Linked DNA regions of Homo sapiens. The protein of the gene in region 1 purifies or fractionates together with the protein of each later gene. This does not show direct contact. Each region holds a gene or a part of one and is shown in the gene's direction. Other genes may lie near its edges. The genes, in order: REG3A and PUS7.

Region 1 (4,503 bases):
CTAGCTGTATGTTTGTACGATGAACTAAACTCTTTTCATCTCCCCTCACCCGTCTCAGCCTCTGGTAACTATTCTACCCTCTGGTTACCTTCTACCCCGTACCTCCATGTGTTTACATATTGTTGTATAAATTTTGTGGAAAAAAATCCTTTTTAACAAAATAATCTGCTGGCTATATTTCTTCTCATATTATTTGAGGAATTGCATTGAATTTTGGGTACTGAATTTTGAGGACGTGAATTAAGGATGAGCTACATCTCATGACCTCGTCACAGACCCCTACTATAAACATCTGCATACAAGTTGGCATATTACAACAATAGCATGAGAGTCAGGGTCTGTAGAAATTCCCAGCCTAACTTTTTCCTGGACTGGCCAAACTGAACCTGAACCAGTGTATGGGCAATGTAGTATGCTTGTCAGAGGCACCAAACTGCTAACTCAAAAATAAACATGACTAAAAGAACTTCTCCCAGTATACCCATATGAAGCTGACCATTTGCCCAGTAAGAATGCAATGAAAAGGGCTTTTAATGTACAGCCAAATGGCAGTCCAGCAAGGAAGCTCATGAGCAACCTACAAGTAGTGAGCATTTTGATGTAATAGAGACTTACATGCAATTCAGAATTATGTTTACAACATCACAAAACAAAAATTTAGAGATAGGCTCTCACTCTGTTGCCTAAGCTGGAGTGCAGTGGGATGATCATAACTTACTGCAGCCTTGAACTCCTGGGTTCAACTGAAGGTCCTCCTACCTCAGCCTGCTGAGTAGCTAGGACCACAAGCACACACCACCGCAACTGGCTTAAATTAAAATATAAATTGTAGAGATAGGGTCTTAATGTGTTGCCCAGGCTGCTCTTGAACTCCTTGCTTCAGGTGATCCTCCCACCTCAGCCTCTCAAAGTGCTGGGATTATAGACCTGAGCCACAGCACCTGGCCAACTGACCTATGATTTTACACAATGGCTGCTCTTCCCTTCTTTAACTATTATTCATTCTTCTTTGATCCTCATTATTTGACTGTAGTCCTTCTTATGTCTTGTTTTCCTTCATTACCTCTTATTCTATCACATTGCCATTGTCATTCTCCACTGGGGAAGCTCTTTCTTGCTGAAGACTGGAAAGACAAGTCCATTCACCTGATTTTCTGTAAGATTGTGGCTCATGTATTGACTTGTCAGACAATTCTGAAGTTTCATCAAAATTAGCTATCATGCTTGCATAATGGCCCTGAACCCTCACTCCTACTCTTAGCTTCAGTACCATCTATGTCCTCAACTGTCCATGATACTTATAATTCCCGTAAATCTTCACTTAACACCTAACATTTATTTAATCTTACTAGGCAAGGTAATAAGAAATACATAGGTTTGCCTCCAGAAGTGGGTTCTTAAGAAACCCACCAGAGGAACTCCTCTTTCAGATGTCCACATTAGAAGATTTCATATCACATTTGGTGCCACAGGCCTTTGACAAGGAGGATGCAGAGGAAAAAGCAAACTTCACCTCTTCCTAGGGAAAGTGTTGGCCTGCCAACAGGAAAGAGGCAACATCTGGGAAAATCCCCAGTCTTTGCCAGGAAGAGTCCATGCCAACCCCACCCCATGACCCCTGTCCTGCCTACTCATTGTCACTCTTCACTCCAATGTCCCTCCCCCAGATCCTCTTATAAAATCCCACTCTTTCCTGACCAGACAAACCATACCATATCCCACCAGAGAGGTAAGTGGGAGCTGAGAGAAGATGAGACCCAGGGAGGAGCTACTGCACATGACACAGGAGAATACATGGGAGGGTCCCTTCCTCAGGGAGCACAGGAACTCTGAGACTCAGCAAGGGTGTCCTGGGAGGGCTCGGGGATGGGAGAGTACACAGATTCACAACTCATTCAGAACTGTAGAAGATGATGGATGTGACCAAGATCACTTTAGTCCTAGGGGACTAGAGAAGGAAAATGACATGAGGCAGTGGGGTATCTGTGTGTTCTCCCACTGACCACGCTTTCTTTAGTGACTCCTGATTGCCTCCTCAAGTCGCAGACACTATGCTGCCTCCCATGGCCCTGCCCAGTGTATCTTGGATGCTGCTTTCCTGCCTCATGCTGCTGTCTCAGGTTCAAGGTGAGATTGCTTTGCCTCTAGCACTGGGTTCCCTATGAATCCTCAGAGCTAACAAGAGGAGGAAGGCTCCTGTGTGTCATGTGAGGTAATGACGTGGTGTCTAATGAACCTGCCTGCAGTTCTTGCATCATCTCTCCTTCCTTCAGGTTAACTTGCAGTGGGAGGCTCCATGGTGGTCCACTAACAGTGGAATGAGATGGCTTCCATTTAGTCAGTGGACTCTAATATACACTGGTGGGAAAGTGGACTCTAATATACACTGGAGGGTCAGTAATGAGATGTGGGGAGGGACAATGATTGGAGGACCCAATGTAGAGACAGCCCAGAGTGAGGAGAGTATTGAATGGTTGAATAAGGGGAAAGGGTAATAAGAGACTGGATGGTGCTCCATTTACTACGGCTATTTTGAGATAAAGAATTTCTGAAAACATAAGGGAAGATGAAGGGGTGTCAGGAATGTGGTCTTCCTCCCCAAGGACATTCCTAGGTATTCCCCAAGGTCATCTCCCACCCCAAGCCCCACTCTTCATTTTACCCTCCCCCCTCTTCTTCCACCTCAGGTGAAGAACCCCAGAGGGAACTGCCCTCTGCACGGATCCGCTGTCCCAAAGGCTCCAAGGCCTATGGCTCCCACTGCTATGCCTTGTTTTTGTCACCAAAATCCTGGACAGATGCAGATGTGAGTGGTTAGATGTGGTGTTGGAGGTGACCGGTCTCAGGGGGAGGAGGGTCTCCATTCAGGAGAGTTCCTTGGGAATGAGGATGAACACGTTTATCTTTCACACAGTCCTCCTCCCACCTACCTTTGCCCTGCCCTCCCTCAGCAGGTCTCAGGCTCCCTCTCATTCTCTTTGTTGCCCTCAAAGCTGGCCTGCCAGAAGCGGCCCTCTGGAAACCTGGTGTCTGTGCTCAGTGGGGCTGAGGGATCCTTCGTGTCCTCCCTGGTGAAGAGCATTGGTAACAGCTACTCATACGTCTGGATTGGGCTCCATGACCCCACACAGGTGCCAGTATATCCTCCCCTCTCTGTTACCTCTCAAGGTGCTATTGTTGCCCAGGCCCACTCCCTGTCCCCTGTGCCTGCCCAGGAAGTACTTCAGGGAGCACTGGAGCTCAGATTCTGGGGAATATTTGGGGGGAAAGGGAAGGCCATGAAGCATCTGAAGATCTGAGTTCTGTGGAGGTCTCTATCTTTCAGATAAAATCAATCTGCCTTCCTCAGGCGTATTACATAATTCTCATATGAGGCTGGGTTAACAATTCTCTGAGCTTCATGGAGTCTTTGCCTACTATTCTGAAGGAACTCTTAATGAAGATAGGATCAATTTTTGTCCCCATACAGAACTGACATTACTTTTGAGGTTCACAAGCTAATCACAAATGCTACATCAATTATTGTTCTGCAAATAATATATTACCTTGAGTTGTTCCAAAGGTCTTATGTTTATTGGCTGGAATTTTCCAATAGCAATGAGGAGTCAAGGAAGAGTTTCCTACTCACCGGCAGCATCTGGAATAGCAGACCAACTTTCCTCATGCTGGGGAGCAAATCAGGTGTTGCAGCTAAGGGGCCATGCAAGAAGAGCTGCAATGGCCATTCCCTTCACCTGGCTACCTCCTCTACTCTACAGGGCACCGAGCCCAATGGAGAAGGTTGGGAGTGGAGTAGCAGTGATGTGATGAATTACTTTGCATGGGAGAGAAATCCCTCCACCATCTCAAGCCCCGGCCACTGTGCGAGCCTGTCGAGAAGCACAGGTAAGAAACAGAGGAGCTGCCTCTTCCCAGTGTTTTCCATCTCATCCCCCATTCCTGGGTCTGACCTTCAGGAAATCTTCCTGAGCTAGAAAATACAATGTTAGTGTGTCTTCTCTTATCTCCTCTCTTCTCCACTTTCTTTGAATCTCTCTCCTGGATTGGGACACTGGTGAAGGTGAGGGAGAGGCTTTAACTTCTAGGCTAAAACCTGGGATGCCCCTTCATTGGATTCACAAGCTTCCTCAGCCCCATTCCATTTATGTCTTCTGTCTCTCCAGCATTTCTGAGGTGGAAAGATTATAACTGTAATGTGAGGTTACCCTATGTCTGCAAGTTCACTGACTAGTGCAGGAGGGAAGTCAGCAGCCTGTGTTTGGTGTGCAACTCATCATGGGCATGAGACCAGTGTGAGGACTCACCCTGGAAGAGAATATTCGCTTAATTCCCCCAACCTGACCACCTCATTCTTATCTTTCTTCTGTTTCTTCCTCCCCGCTGTCATTTCAGTCTCTTCATTTTGTCATACGGCCTAAGGCTTTAAAGAGCAATAAAATTTTTAGTCTGCACTTGTTTGTCTTGTATATGCCAGTGTCATAGCCATACTCTGAGAAGGACAAA
Region 2 (3,814 bases), on another chromosome or scaffold:
AGGTGTGAGCCACCGTGCCTGACCTTTTTTTTTTTTTTTTTTTTTTTTTTTAAGACAATGTCTCACTCTGTCGCCCAGGCTGGAGTGCAGTGGCACTATCTTAACTCACTGCAACCTCTGCCTCCCGGGTTCAAGCAATGCCCCTGCCTCAGCCTCCCAAGAGCTGGGACTATAGGCGCCTGCCACCCACGCCTAACTAATATTTAGTAGAGATGAGGTTTCACCATGTTGGCCAGGCTGGTCTTGAACTCCTGACCTCAAGTGATCTGCCTGCCTTAACCTCCCTCAAAACGCTGGGATTACAGGTGTGAGCCACCGCGCCCGGCCTGAAACCAGCTTTTATATAGGTGATTGTTACTTTCTACTCTTTCCTAACAGGTTTTCTTAAATGTTTTCTTGGAGCCTTAAAGATGGAGATGACAGAAATGACTGGTGTGTCGCTGAAACGTGGGGCACTGGTTGTCGAAGATAATGACAGTGGAGTCCCAGTTGAAGAGACAAAAAAACAGAAGCTGTCGGAATGCAGTCTAACCAAAGGTCAAGATGGGCTACAGAATGACTTTCTGTCCATCAGTGAAGACGTGCCTCGGCCTCCTGACACTGTCAGTACTGGGAAAGGTGGAAAGAATTCTGAGGCTCAGTTGGAAGATGAGGAAGAAGAGGAGGAAGATGGACTTTCAGAGGAGTGCGAGGAGGAGGAATCAGAGAGTTTTGCAGACATGATGAAGCATGGACTCACTGAGGCTGACGTAGGCATCACCAAGTTTGTGAGTTCTCATCAAGGGTTCTCGGGAATCTTAAAAGAAAGGTACATTTAGTTTATGAATAAAGTTATTTTGATTGTATTAGGTTTCTTCTTTAGAAAGAAATTAGCTTTATATTCTTCCACTTAGCTTTCCATCTCCAAGGCTTGTTTATACTACTGATCAAAAGGAATAGGATGAAGGAAACCTGCCTGAATAAATAGCCTTGGATTTTTAAATTTTAATTAATTAATTTTTTCCCTTTTTTTGAGAGAGGGTCTCACTCTGTCACCCAGGCTGGCATGCAGTGGCATGATCATGCCTCAAATAAATTCATTCACCAGGCACAGTGGCTTACGCCTGTTATCCCAGCACTTTGGGAGGCCGAGGCTGGCGGATCACTTGAGGTCAGGAGTTTGAGACCAGCCTGGCCAACATGGTGAAAGCACATCTATACTAAAAATACAAAAATTAGCTGGGCGTGGTGATGGGCACCTGTAATCCCAGCTACTCGGGAGGCTGAGGCAGGAGAATAGCTTGAACCTGGGAGGTGGAGGTTGCAGTGAGCCGAGATTGCACCACTGCATTCCAGCCTGGGTGACAGAGCAAGACTCTGTCTCAAAAAAATAAGTAAATGAATAAATTCATTTAAATGGTTTCAGATTTTCTCCTGAGTTTGTTTTATAATCTTAAACTCTTTTTTCATTTGAATGTGCCACAACTATGTTAGAAGAAGGTAGTCTTTGGAGCCAGGTGGATCCCAGTGTGAAGTTCGCTACTTAGTAGTTACTTAGCCTCTCTGAACCTCAGCATCCTTATTTAAAAAATGGATCAGGCCAGACACGGTGGCTAACGCCTGTGATCCCAGCACTTTGGGAGGCCAAGGCGGGCAGATCACTTGAGGTCAGGAGTTTGAGACCAGCCTGGGCAACATGGCGAAACCCTGTCTCTACTAATAATACAAAAATTAGCCTGGCGTAGTGGCACGCGCCTGTAATCCCAGCTACTCGGTAGGCTGAGGCAGGAGAATCACTTGAACCCAGGAGGCGGAGGTTGCAGTGAGCCAAGATCAAGCCACTGCACTCCAGCCTGGGCAACAGAGCAAGACTCTGTCTCAAAAAAAATAATAGTAATAAAATAAAATTTTTAAATGGATCATATTACCACATTGGGGTTGTTGAGGATTTTGAATAATGCATGTAAAATATTTAACATAAAGGTAAGCTTCAGGCTAGTTCATGGTAGACTTACTGGGTTCTGATTCAATTAACCATATAGCATATTTTGTGATTTAATTTAGTGTGGGCTGCCTGAATCGTCATAGGGTAATGTTAATAAGCTTTTGTTTTTGCATTTCTCTGGAAGAATATTCTAGAAGCTAAGAGGGTCTTTTCTTTAAGTTCTCATATAAAACTTGAGCCAAGGTATGGCTCAGCATTCATTAAGAAACCAGAAAAGACCGGATGTGGTGATTCACGCCTGTAATCCCAGCACTTTGGGAGGCCAAGATGGGCAGATCACTTGAGGTCAGGAGTTCAAGATCAGCCTGGCCAAAATGGTGCAACCCCGTCTCTACTAAAAATACAAAAATTAGCTGGGCGTGGTGGCACGTGCCTGTAATCCCAGCTACTCGGGAGGCTGAGGCGGGAGAATCACTTGGACCCAGGAGGCGGAGGTTGCAGTGAGTGGAGATCGAGCCACTGCACTCCAGCCTAGGCAACAGAGCAAGGCTCCATCTCAAAAAAAAAAAAGAAAAAAAAAATTAACTCCATGTGATTTTGCACTGAAGATTTTTTAAAATTCCTTGTTTTGCATAATAGTAAGGCTTGCTGTTGATCAACTTTATCTTAAAATTAATAGAAAACAGGATGTTAATTATCTGAAAGTTCATGTTTTCTTTCATCAGATACTCCGACTTCGTTGTTCATGAAATAGGAAAAGATGGACGGATCAGCCATTTGAATGACTTGTCCATTCCAGTGGATGAGGAGGTAGAAGTAGCTCTTTAGCAAATGTCACCTTCTGTATAAAAATAGCATTTCCTAGAGATTTAGAAATATAGAGCTTTATTAAACTTGAATTCTATGTATGATTCATTGTGAGTTCTCATGGTTATTTTAAAGGACCCTTCAGAAGACATATTTACAGTTTTGACAGCTGAAGAAAAGCAGCGATTGGAAGAGCTCCAGCTGTTCAAAAATAAGGAAACCAGTGTTGCCATTGAGGTAACTAATGCAAAAATATATGAAAAATTATTTAGGGTTTTAGTTGCTTTTTGGGTGGATGTTAAGTGTTTATGGAAAAAATTACAATGGTTAACAAAGGGTGACTTTTTGCTCTATTGGATCTAAAGGATATTACACTAAAAAATTTTTTTACTGGGGCAGATAACTAGTATCCCAGATAAACTATAGCCCCCCCCAAAGTTACATTTTTGTTTAAAAACATTTTTATTTGGGTACAGTGTTACATGCTATTCCAAAGTCCTAGCTACTCCGAAGGCTGAAGCCAGAGGTTTACTTGAGCCCAGGAATTGGAGACTAGCCTGGACAACATAGTGAGACATCATCTCTGAAAAAAAAATTTAGGGACCACAAATGAACAGCGACATATGTTGTTTAGAATCCCAGAGTACCAATTATACCACAATGTCCGTTGTAACAGGACCACCATTTGCTGTCTGTCAGGTATGTGACCCAGGTCAGATTCTGGCTTCAGCAGCTTCTTGGCCTCAGTTGGGACTCTGGGAAGGGGAGGAAATGGGGAAAGGAAGTAGGGGAGCATTTATTTGCTCATCGTGGGTCAATTCTGCTATTGAAGAAAAGGAGAGCTCAGCTACTAAGTAGAATAGTAAATTTTGTTGTTAAAGCTTTTGTTCGCCGGGCACGGTGGCTCACACCTGTAATCCCAGCACTTTGGGAGGCCAAGGTGGGCGGATCACTTGAGGTCAGGAGTTCAAGACCAGCCTGGCCAACATGGCGAAATCCCGTCTCTACTAAAAATACAAAAAAATTAGCCAAGCGTGGTAGCGCAGGCCTGTAGTCCCAGCTACTTGGGAGGCTGAGGCAAGA

The links.
Region 2: the proteins of REG3A (region 1) and PUS7 purify together in Homo sapiens (affinity purification with mass spectrometry; one large-scale study listed by BioGRID and IntAct). This does not show direct contact.

What each region holds. Positions count from the first base shown.
Region 1 is NC_000002.12:79,156,954-79,161,456, reverse strand, and holds REG3A (regenerating islet-derived protein 3-alpha precursor), read left to right. Parts: upstream 1-1,703; 5' UTR 1,704-1,729; exon of another isoform or gene 1,730-2,017; 5' UTR 2,018-2,051; coding exon 2,052-2,127; intron 2,128-2,687; coding exon 2,688-2,806; intron 2,807-2,993; coding exon 2,994-3,131; intron 3,132-3,758; coding exon 3,759-3,885; intron 3,886-4,163; coding exon 4,164-4,231; 3' UTR 4,232-4,451; downstream 4,452-4,503. UniProt on the Homo sapiens protein: Acts as a hormone in response to different stimuli like anti-inflammatory signals, such as IL17A, or gut microbiome. Secreted by different cell types to activate its receptor EXTL3 and induce cell specific signaling pathways.
Region 2 is NC_000007.14:105,505,109-105,508,922, reverse strand, and holds part of PUS7 (pseudouridylate synthase 7 homolog), read left to right. Parts: intron 1-378; 5' UTR 379-410; coding exon 411-808; intron 809-2,649; coding exon 2,650-2,734; intron 2,735-2,866; coding exon 2,867-2,968; intron 2,969-3,814. UniProt on the Homo sapiens protein: Pseudouridylate synthase that catalyzes pseudouridylation of RNAs.